Linked DNA regions of Homo sapiens: regions 1 and 2 are each linked to region 3. Evidence: fine-mapped expression QTL. A gene starts in region 3. Each other region holds a variant in brackets. All regions are shown on one strand. Distances are from middle to middle.

Region 1 (2,853 bases), 43 kb after region 3:
ATACTAATAGCATCGCCAAGCATTCTTTTTATTTTGATTTTTATTTCATGAGACTTCAGCTTTTCCCGCCTCTCCTCTCCTAGTCGTAGGACACCACTGCCATGTAGTTTAAATGGGGCATCACATCGTCTATCTCCTACCACTGATATTTTTAAAATCTCAGCTCCACCTCAGCCCCAATTATCTTCTGACACTTATAGGAGGTGGTTTAATGCCACTTACCAGTGTGTGACCTTGAGCAAGTAATTTCATGTCTTGGGACCTCAGTTTCTTCTTCAATAGAACAGGATATTATTTACTCTTGGGGCTATGCAGATGTAATGAAATAATGAAAGTTCTTGGAACATAATTTGCATCCTAGAAAGGTGGTTATTATTATTGTTGCTGTTGATTAGTGTAAGGTAATGGTTAAGAACTTCAGCCGGACATCTTGGGTGATCTTGGGCGATCTTGGGCAAGTTATTTAATTGCTCTGTGCTTCGTTTTCCTTATCTGCAAAATATAAATAACAGTGCTGATCATTTCCGTTTGTTATGAAGATTAAGTGGGATCAGGCATAGACCAGAGCCTGCCCATGGTGAGCACTTATCCACTGTTAGCTACTATTATTATTAGTTATTCTTATTGGTATATTAACTGTTTATTCTTAAAACTAGAGTTGTGATTATAGTATGAGAAACAATATTTTTTAAACACTGAGTTAAGTTTTTGTACAAATGTAAAAGGGTTTTGGGGAGAGTAAAATAATCAGAAAAAAACGAAAAGAGTAACACATTGTTATCTCATTCTACACTTACAGTTGTAAAGGTTTATTTTTTAACCACTTCCTTACCAGCTCAATCACCTTGTAACAAAATCGACATTGTATTTATTTCCTGTAGATTCCATAACCTCCCAGAGTCTCTTTGTAAGTCTCTCTACAAAAAGAGCAGGTGAAATCAAGGCCAAATACGTGTTCCTGATATAAATAGCAGGAAGTCGATGAAATGTTTATTGTAAAAAGAGTAGGATTGAAACATATGCTTGAATACATATAAGCACAATATGTTCTCCAGCTCTATGTAGCACCTGTGTAGAACAGCTAAGCCATATGTTTCAGAAATTATACTTTAAAAATTACTATGTAGATGTA[A/G]AAAAGGAAAATGCACAATTTATACAAAAAATAAACATGTTTACTGTTAAAATAACTTCATGGTTCCTTCAAATCCTTTTTAATTGTAACAAGTTTTTATCTTGTAGTGTATGCAGAAACTTCTTACAAAACCATTAAAGTAAATAAACAGCTTAGAAGTATATTGTCAAAATGATATTAAAATATCTATACAAGGTTGAAATTTAAATCAGCACAACTTTAATAGAACTCATGACATTTAGTATTAAGAACTCATGTCGCAAAATAGCTAATGTTAGCTACACTATCCTTTAGTATTTGCTTGATCTTAAGGAAATAACTTTTTACTCTTTTTAGCAAAAGACCTAATAATATATTAATGTTGTCTGTGTTGTATGTATGGTTTAGGGTGAGGGTGTGCACAAGGAGGGGAAGTAAGTTGGAGAGGCGTGATATTCTTGGCCTGATATACATTACTAGGGAGTTTCCTACATGGAATACAGGATAGAGAAGGAAGACTTCAAAGTTAGAATGGATGGAAATACTAAATTTAAAAATATAACAAAGAAATGCATGATTGTATTATTAGTTAATAATTAATTATTAGTTAATAATTAGTTAATGTGACACTTGCTATCCCGTTAGTTTGACCCATGGTCTGGAGCTACAATTTAATTTAACTGAAGGGACAACTTTCAGTTGAAATTTCTTATATTTCCAAGTAGAGGTCTTTTTGAGCCTATTTCTAATGACTAGTTTAAACATTGATAATTAGCAACATTCATTCGTAAGGCAATAATTTCTATAGCAGTGAATATCATTTTAATTCTGTAATTAGATAACCAAAATTTTAATAATAGGAGCTATCAATTTGCTGAATAAACCTTCCAACAGATAATATGAAAGAAAAACATCTATACAACTCAGGTGAAAACATGATGATTTGGTTAATTAACCTTCGAAATACTGTGGTTGTTCCATTATGTGCAATAAAATGCTTTGTAAAAAACTTGTCTAAAGGAGTAAGTCTGGGAAATGCTTCACAGGTAATTTTTCTCTAGGAAGCTCACAATGCACATGAGTATATTACAAGATTAGTATAAGATATTCTGTAGTAACAAGACATATTTAACTCAGTGTTTCCCAAACTTAGTTGGCCATGGCTCTTTTTTAAAAATGAAATCTAGTGTTATTTTGGTAAATAGTGTTGGCTGATTATACAAAAGCCATTCCCTCCCTCCCTTTTTAACAGAACCATGATTTCATTGGAACAGCAATATGCCCAGTCCCGGAGAAGGCATCATGAGTTCTCTATGCCAGTTTTAGCAATCCATAGTGGCTGGAGTGTGATGCAGAATCTGGCCAATGAAACCTAAGGAGAAGTCTGCTGGGAGGTTCTTCCTTGATCAGGAAAAACAACAACAAGAACAACAACAACAACAACAAAAAACAAAGAACAAAAAAAGGATAGCATAGAGAGAAGATTCTCGTGTTATGGATGCTGTGAAAATAAGATGCCTTTAGAGATGTCAGCATCTTGTAATCGGAAGTAACAAACCTGAGGTCAATTGCTAGCTGATGAAGACTGGAGGAATAGGAAGATAAAAAGGGCTTGGCTCTTTGATGGAACTGTTGAATCCTCAAGTTGACTTGATGGCTGCCTGTCCCTGTAAATAACAACTATCTTATCATATCAATTTAGCTGTCAGATGGGTTATTATTACTTGCACCTAAACACCATT
Region 2 (2,500 bases), 300 kb after region 3:
AAACAAAGGAGTTTCAGGGCCCAGGCAAGTCCAAAATCCAGCAAGGCAATCAAATTTTAAAGCTCCAAAATGACCTCCTTTGACTCCAGGTCTCATATCCAAGTCACACTGATGCAAGAGGTGGGTTCCCATGGTCTTGGGCAGCGCTGCCTCTGTGGCTTTGCAGGGTACAGCCTCCCTCCCAGCTGCTTTCCCAACAGTCCTCCAAAGTCTTAACTCATTTCAGAATTAACCCAGAAGTCCACAGTCCAAAGTCTCATCAGAGACAAGGCAAGTCTCTTCCCTCTATGAGCTTGTTACCCAGTACCAAAGTTGTGTCCACATTTTCAAGTATCTTTTCAGCAATGCCCCACTCTACTGGTACCAATTTACTGTATTAGTCTGTTTTTATGCTGCTGATAAAGACATACCCGAGACAAGGAAGAAAAGGAGGTTTAATTTGACTTACAGTTCCACATGGCTGGGGAGGTCTCATAATCATGGCGAAGAGCAAAAGGCACTTCTTACATGGTGGCAGCAAGAAAGAATAAGGAAGAAGCAAAAGCGGAAACCCCTGATAAACCTATCGGATCTCGTGAGACTTATTCACTATCACGAGAATAGCATGGGAAAGACCGGCCTCCATGATTCAATTACCTCCCCCTGGGTCCCTCCCACAACATGTGGGAATTCTGGGAGATACAACTCTGTGGAGATTTGAATGGGGACACAGCCAAACCATATCACTTACAAGCATTTGCATTTTACGGGGAACAAAAGGCTTAAGCCAAAGCTTCTAAGGGTAAAACTTCTGCCACTGAACATCTCTGTTTAGGAAAAAGGTGAGGGTCATTGACAGTCTCCCCTCCTGGAGGACATAGTGAGTCCTGGGCAGAAGTGAGAAGGTGTGTTTTGGCACGTCCCTGAGGGAAGTCTGGGAAACTGACAAGGAAACTGTAGTGCCTGCGGCTCTTCAAGCAGCAGTTCTCTTTCTTTCAGCATATGCCGGTCCCAGCCAAGTGATTGTCACCCAGGTAGGGGTGGATGATTGACACTGTCACCCCAGGGATAATTTAAAAAGCATGACAGAGAAAGCTTTTGTGGCCTCACACATGATCTGGAATGTCAGGATTGCTAGGGGACAGAAACACTCCATGTCTGCCTAGACCTCAAGTTCTCTCTGTGCTTGTATGTAAAAACCAAAATCTTAACATTCCAATCAAAAGCACACATTGCTCACACTGAAAAGTATTTGGAGAGAAACAACCTTGCCTGTAATCAGAACTACGTTACATAGCATTCAACCAACCTACATATATTATGAGTTGTTTACTAATTCTTAGGCACTGTTTTA[G/A]ATCCTGAGGACAGAGAGATGAACAGGACAGACATGTCCATAGATTGATGAGAGCGATCCTGCTCTGGAAATCCATGTAGTATGTAGAACAAGGCACCATTTAATAATCCGTTGCATAAGAAAACAGATTAATCTTCACTCTACTGTTTAAAGCCATTTCACCTTATTCTTGCCTTAATGTGACTATTCATTTAATAAACTTAATAAGCAGCTATAGGAACCAGACATAGGGCTTGGCATGAAGGATACAGGACAGATAACATAATGTTCCTGTTCTCAAGGAGTTCACACTCTAATGGAAATGACATGCAGATATATTTGAAATTACAATGCAATATGATCATTTCTTCAAATAGTGTGCTGAAAAAAAGCATAATTTAGAGAATTTCTAAATACACCTGAGTGTTTCATGGAAGGCTATGCAGAGCAGAAAGCATCTGATATGGGTCTTGCAGTTAGAGGAGGAGTTAGCCAGCTGGAGAAGTGGAGGACCAATCATTCTGGACAAAGAACATGTGTGCCAAGTCACAGAGGTGTAAATGCATGGGCAGAGTATGGAAGTGTCTGAAAGTATACACACACAGAATGGAAACACAGCTCCACAAAGCAGTGCCTTCCCTTACTTTGTGAAATGTACTCTGATGTTTTCCACTTTGTTCTATTCAATTCTGTTCCATTCTGTTGTGCAAATTCAGTGGTCATGTCCTGCTAAATTGATCTCATGAATTATAAATCATAGTTTAAAACAAAACATTGTTAGAATGAAAGGCTAGGAAAAAAATATATGGCTACAGTTGAGATGAGAGATGCTGAGAACCAGAACAACTTCCCCTGCAAAAAACACACACAACCTGCAATAAGGATGAGGAAGTCATCATTCTTTACTGTAATTCTTTGTTTCCCTGTGTGTTTTCCCATTAAAAGCTGGGGAAGAGACTTTGGTTTTATTTGGTTTTGTTTTAAGTTCACTGTCTTCTAGCACCATGCCTGGACATGGTAAGTGTTCAACGGGTGTTTTATGAATGAACAAATGAATACATGAATGAAAGACTTGAGAGTTATGTACAAGATAAAATCAAGACTGCAGCCAAGGAACTGGATACAGGACATAAGCCAAATATATTATTAAAATAAATCTAAGAGACTTATAAGGGTTTTGGAGTACCT
Region 3 (2,791 bases):
TCACAAACCCTAAATATTTGCATTCCACTAAAAGCAAAAGTTATTTACTTACAAAGTGTAAATGCTTTAAATTATGGCTATTTCCAATAGGCTTCACACATTTCCATAAACCTAGATTTCTCATTCTTTGGAATTAGATGCATTAGATCACTAGGGAATCTCAACCGATTACAGCCTCCTGATCCCGTCTGTTTACATTCCATCTGCACACACTCCCCTAGACGCAACTAAACAACTGGTTTGGGATGAGCATCATCAACAGCACCTTGTGGCTCATCAAACACCATCTTTACTCAATATGGGTTAAGAACCACACCTGAATGCCAGCACTGATATCTAAGTAACTCTAAGAGGTGGGATGTCATTTTGCTGACTGGAATATTGAACAATCTGGGGACAGATATGCCTGTCCAGACCCAACACAAATTAACAAAAATCCTAAACACAGATAAATCCTAAAGAAAAATGTCAACTCATTTTCTTTAAAGAAAATGCTGTCCATTTAGAGGAGGAGAGGGCCAGCGAGAAAAAGGGAAAACGACCCCCGACTCCCAACACATCTTTTTCTCCATACGGGAAATACAAACATCTCTTTGAAGCGGCTTCTACAAAATCGGATGTTCTAGAGTCCTGAAGGAGCATTGGTCCGGGAACTAAAACAGCCAGCCACCTCCTGGCCACCTGTGTCCAGGTAGAGCAAGGTAGTTTGAGGATGCAGGGTTAGGTTTCGGAAAGGGTCTTCACGCCCAAGCGGACCAAGGCAAGAGAGTCGGCGATCCAGAAAGTGGAGGGCTCGGGCGCTGTTCAGGGGGAGAAAATGGGGCAGCGGGGAGAAAAGAGGATGGGTGCTTGGTTCATATCCCAGCTGTTAGGGCACCAGGCAGGTCGAATCCTCTGGTTGAGACCAGAGCCTCCACTGTTACGCTCCCAGAGCTTCCTTTACCCCCACCCCCGGACACCAACCCGCGCCCACACACCTGCCCGTCGACCCGCAGGTGGCATTCTCTCGGTCAAGGGCACGAGGTGAGAAGGGCAGGGTGCGCCGGGACCCTGTGCAGGTAGCCCCAGCTCACCTGGGAGAACCGGGCGCCCCAGGCTCCTCGCCTCGGCCCCCTGGCCCCCTCGCCCTCTCGCCTCCTCGCACTCACCCAGATCATGAGGCTGTCGCACAGGGGCAGCTTAGGCTGCGGCGGCGGCTGCGTCTCCTCCATGGCCGGCGCCGCCGTCGACGACGCCGCGGACACCTTCACACTCCCTCCTACCGGCTCTCCTCCAGGAGCCGGCGTCCACGACCTGCTAGCCCCCAGGAAAGCTCGGTACCAGGCCCGACCCGCGCAGCTCACGCGCGAACCCTCGCGCTGTCGACGCGTCCGGCGTCACCCCCTCCTCACCCGCCCCCGCCTCGCTCCAGCGTTCGCCCCCTCCCCTTCCTGGGCCCCGGCCGCGCTGCCAGGCACCTGAGCCCCGCCTTCTCCCACCCCTCCCCTCCTCCCACCCGTCCTGCCCACTCCCGCACACCTCGCCCCGCCGCCCTGAGTGACCTGGCCGCGCACCAGTCACAGAGACGGTAGGTACCCGGGGGGGCGGGCGGGGCGGGGCGGGGGCGGGAAGAACCGGGATAGGTTGCGCAGGGGGGATTGCTGATTGGACGTGCCCTCGTGGGCTCTGGCCAATCAACGTGAGACAAGCCTGAGCCTTGGGTAGAGAGTGAGAGTGGGTGGGAAGAGGTTTATGACCTGGCAGGTGCAGTGAGGGCGGGGGTGGGAGGTTGCGCGCGGGAAGCGAGCGCGCGTGCGCGGCGGGGATTGGTAAGGCTGAAGCTCAGCCCCAGTGGCCGAAGAGGCAGAGGGGCAGCAGGGCACCGGCTGGGCTCAGGCGTCTTCCCTCCTTCTTCGCGGTAGCACGCCGCCTCGCTACACCTGTGGAGGGCCCACACTCTGCTTCCACATTGTCTTCAGAAATAGATCCTACCGGCTGGGCGAGGTGGCTCACGCCTGTAATCCTAGCACTTTGGGAGGCTGAGGCGGGTGGATCACCTGAGGTCAGGAGTTCGAGACCCGCCAGGCCAAGATGGCGAAACCCATTCTCTACTAAAAATACAAAGATTAGCCGGGGGTGGTGGCACATGACTGTAATCCCAGCTACTCAGGAGGCTGAGGCAGAAGAATCGCTTGAACCCGGGAGGCACAGGTTGCAGTGAGCCGAGATCATGCCACTGCACCCCAGCCTGGACAAAAAACCGAGACTCTGTCTCTAAAAAATATATAAAACAAAATAAAGAAAGAAAGAAATAGATCATACCCATGAATTAAAACTCTTCGAGGAAGGAAGAGCTGATTTCCTCCTAGGCACTCATTGGAAAGGGATGTTTTCATTTGCACACGTGGCAAATATGCCACATTAATAAGGAAAATAGAATCCGTCAGTGCTCCTTAAATAAGCTCTCACGGGACCATAGATCATGAGCAATTTTATTTTACATGGGGCAAAAGGGAAGACCGTTTTCAAGTAGCAAAATAAACGAAATGTTTTGAAAAACATGGAAGATATTAATGTATCCATTTTCCTTTGTCAGTTGAAAATTTGCTTTTTCCGAGAATGTTGTGGGGTGGAGGGGGGTCGGGGGAGGTGACCTGAAATTGGAAGCTCTCCAAGGTATTGATAGATGGCTTAGGTGATTGAAAAGGGCTAGACTATTCTTAGTCTTGCTGTCACTTCACTCATTCATAAACTCATCAATTCATGCTCTGAGTAAGAAAACAGCTGGCTTTTTTTTATATTGCTGCGTTTT

Alleles and levels. Positions count from the first base shown, and alleles are read on the strand shown. Sizes are in standard deviations (SD) of each study's normalised expression. Not every link is listed here.
With allele A in place of G in region 2, the expression in gastroesophageal junction of the gene that starts at base 1,380 in region 3 is lower (large effect, 1.0 SD a copy in GTEx).

The links. PIP is the estimated chance that this variant, and not a neighbour inherited with it, causes the effect.
Region 1: its variant is fine-mapped to the expression of HOOK1 in blood mononuclear cells (TOPMed, PIP 0.91).
Region 2: its variant is fine-mapped to the expression of HOOK1 in gastroesophageal junction (GTEx, PIP 0.97).

Annotation. Positions count from the first base shown.
Region 1 is chr1:59,770,407-59,773,259 of GRCh38, reverse strand. LOC105378758 (a long non-coding RNA gene) reads left to right here. Exons shown (of 5, transcript XR_947426.3): 5 at 2,364-2,440. It overlaps LOC101926944 (a long non-coding RNA gene), which reads right to left and starts at 465. Exons shown (of 3, transcript NR_110627.1): 1 at 223-465. The variant A/G (reference allele first, on the strand shown) is at 1,133.
Region 2 is chr1:59,512,774-59,515,273 of GRCh38, reverse strand. The region is part of intron 7 of FGGY (FGGY carbohydrate kinase domain containing); the gene reads right to left. Among named protein-coding and RNA genes, the nearest start is that of FGGY, 220 kb to the right of the region's middle. The variant G/A (reference allele first, on the strand shown) is at 1,334.
Region 3 is chr1:59,813,538-59,816,328 of GRCh38, reverse strand. HOOK1 (hook microtubule tethering protein 1) reads right to left here and starts at 1,380. Exons shown (of 22, transcript NM_015888.6): 1 at 1,149-1,380. The coding sequence starts at 1,211. LOC105378758 (a long non-coding RNA gene) reads left to right here and starts at 1,463. Exons shown (of 5, transcript XR_947426.3): 1 at 1,463-1,567. RefSeq lists an enhancer at 513-1,076 and a silencer at 1,313-1,912.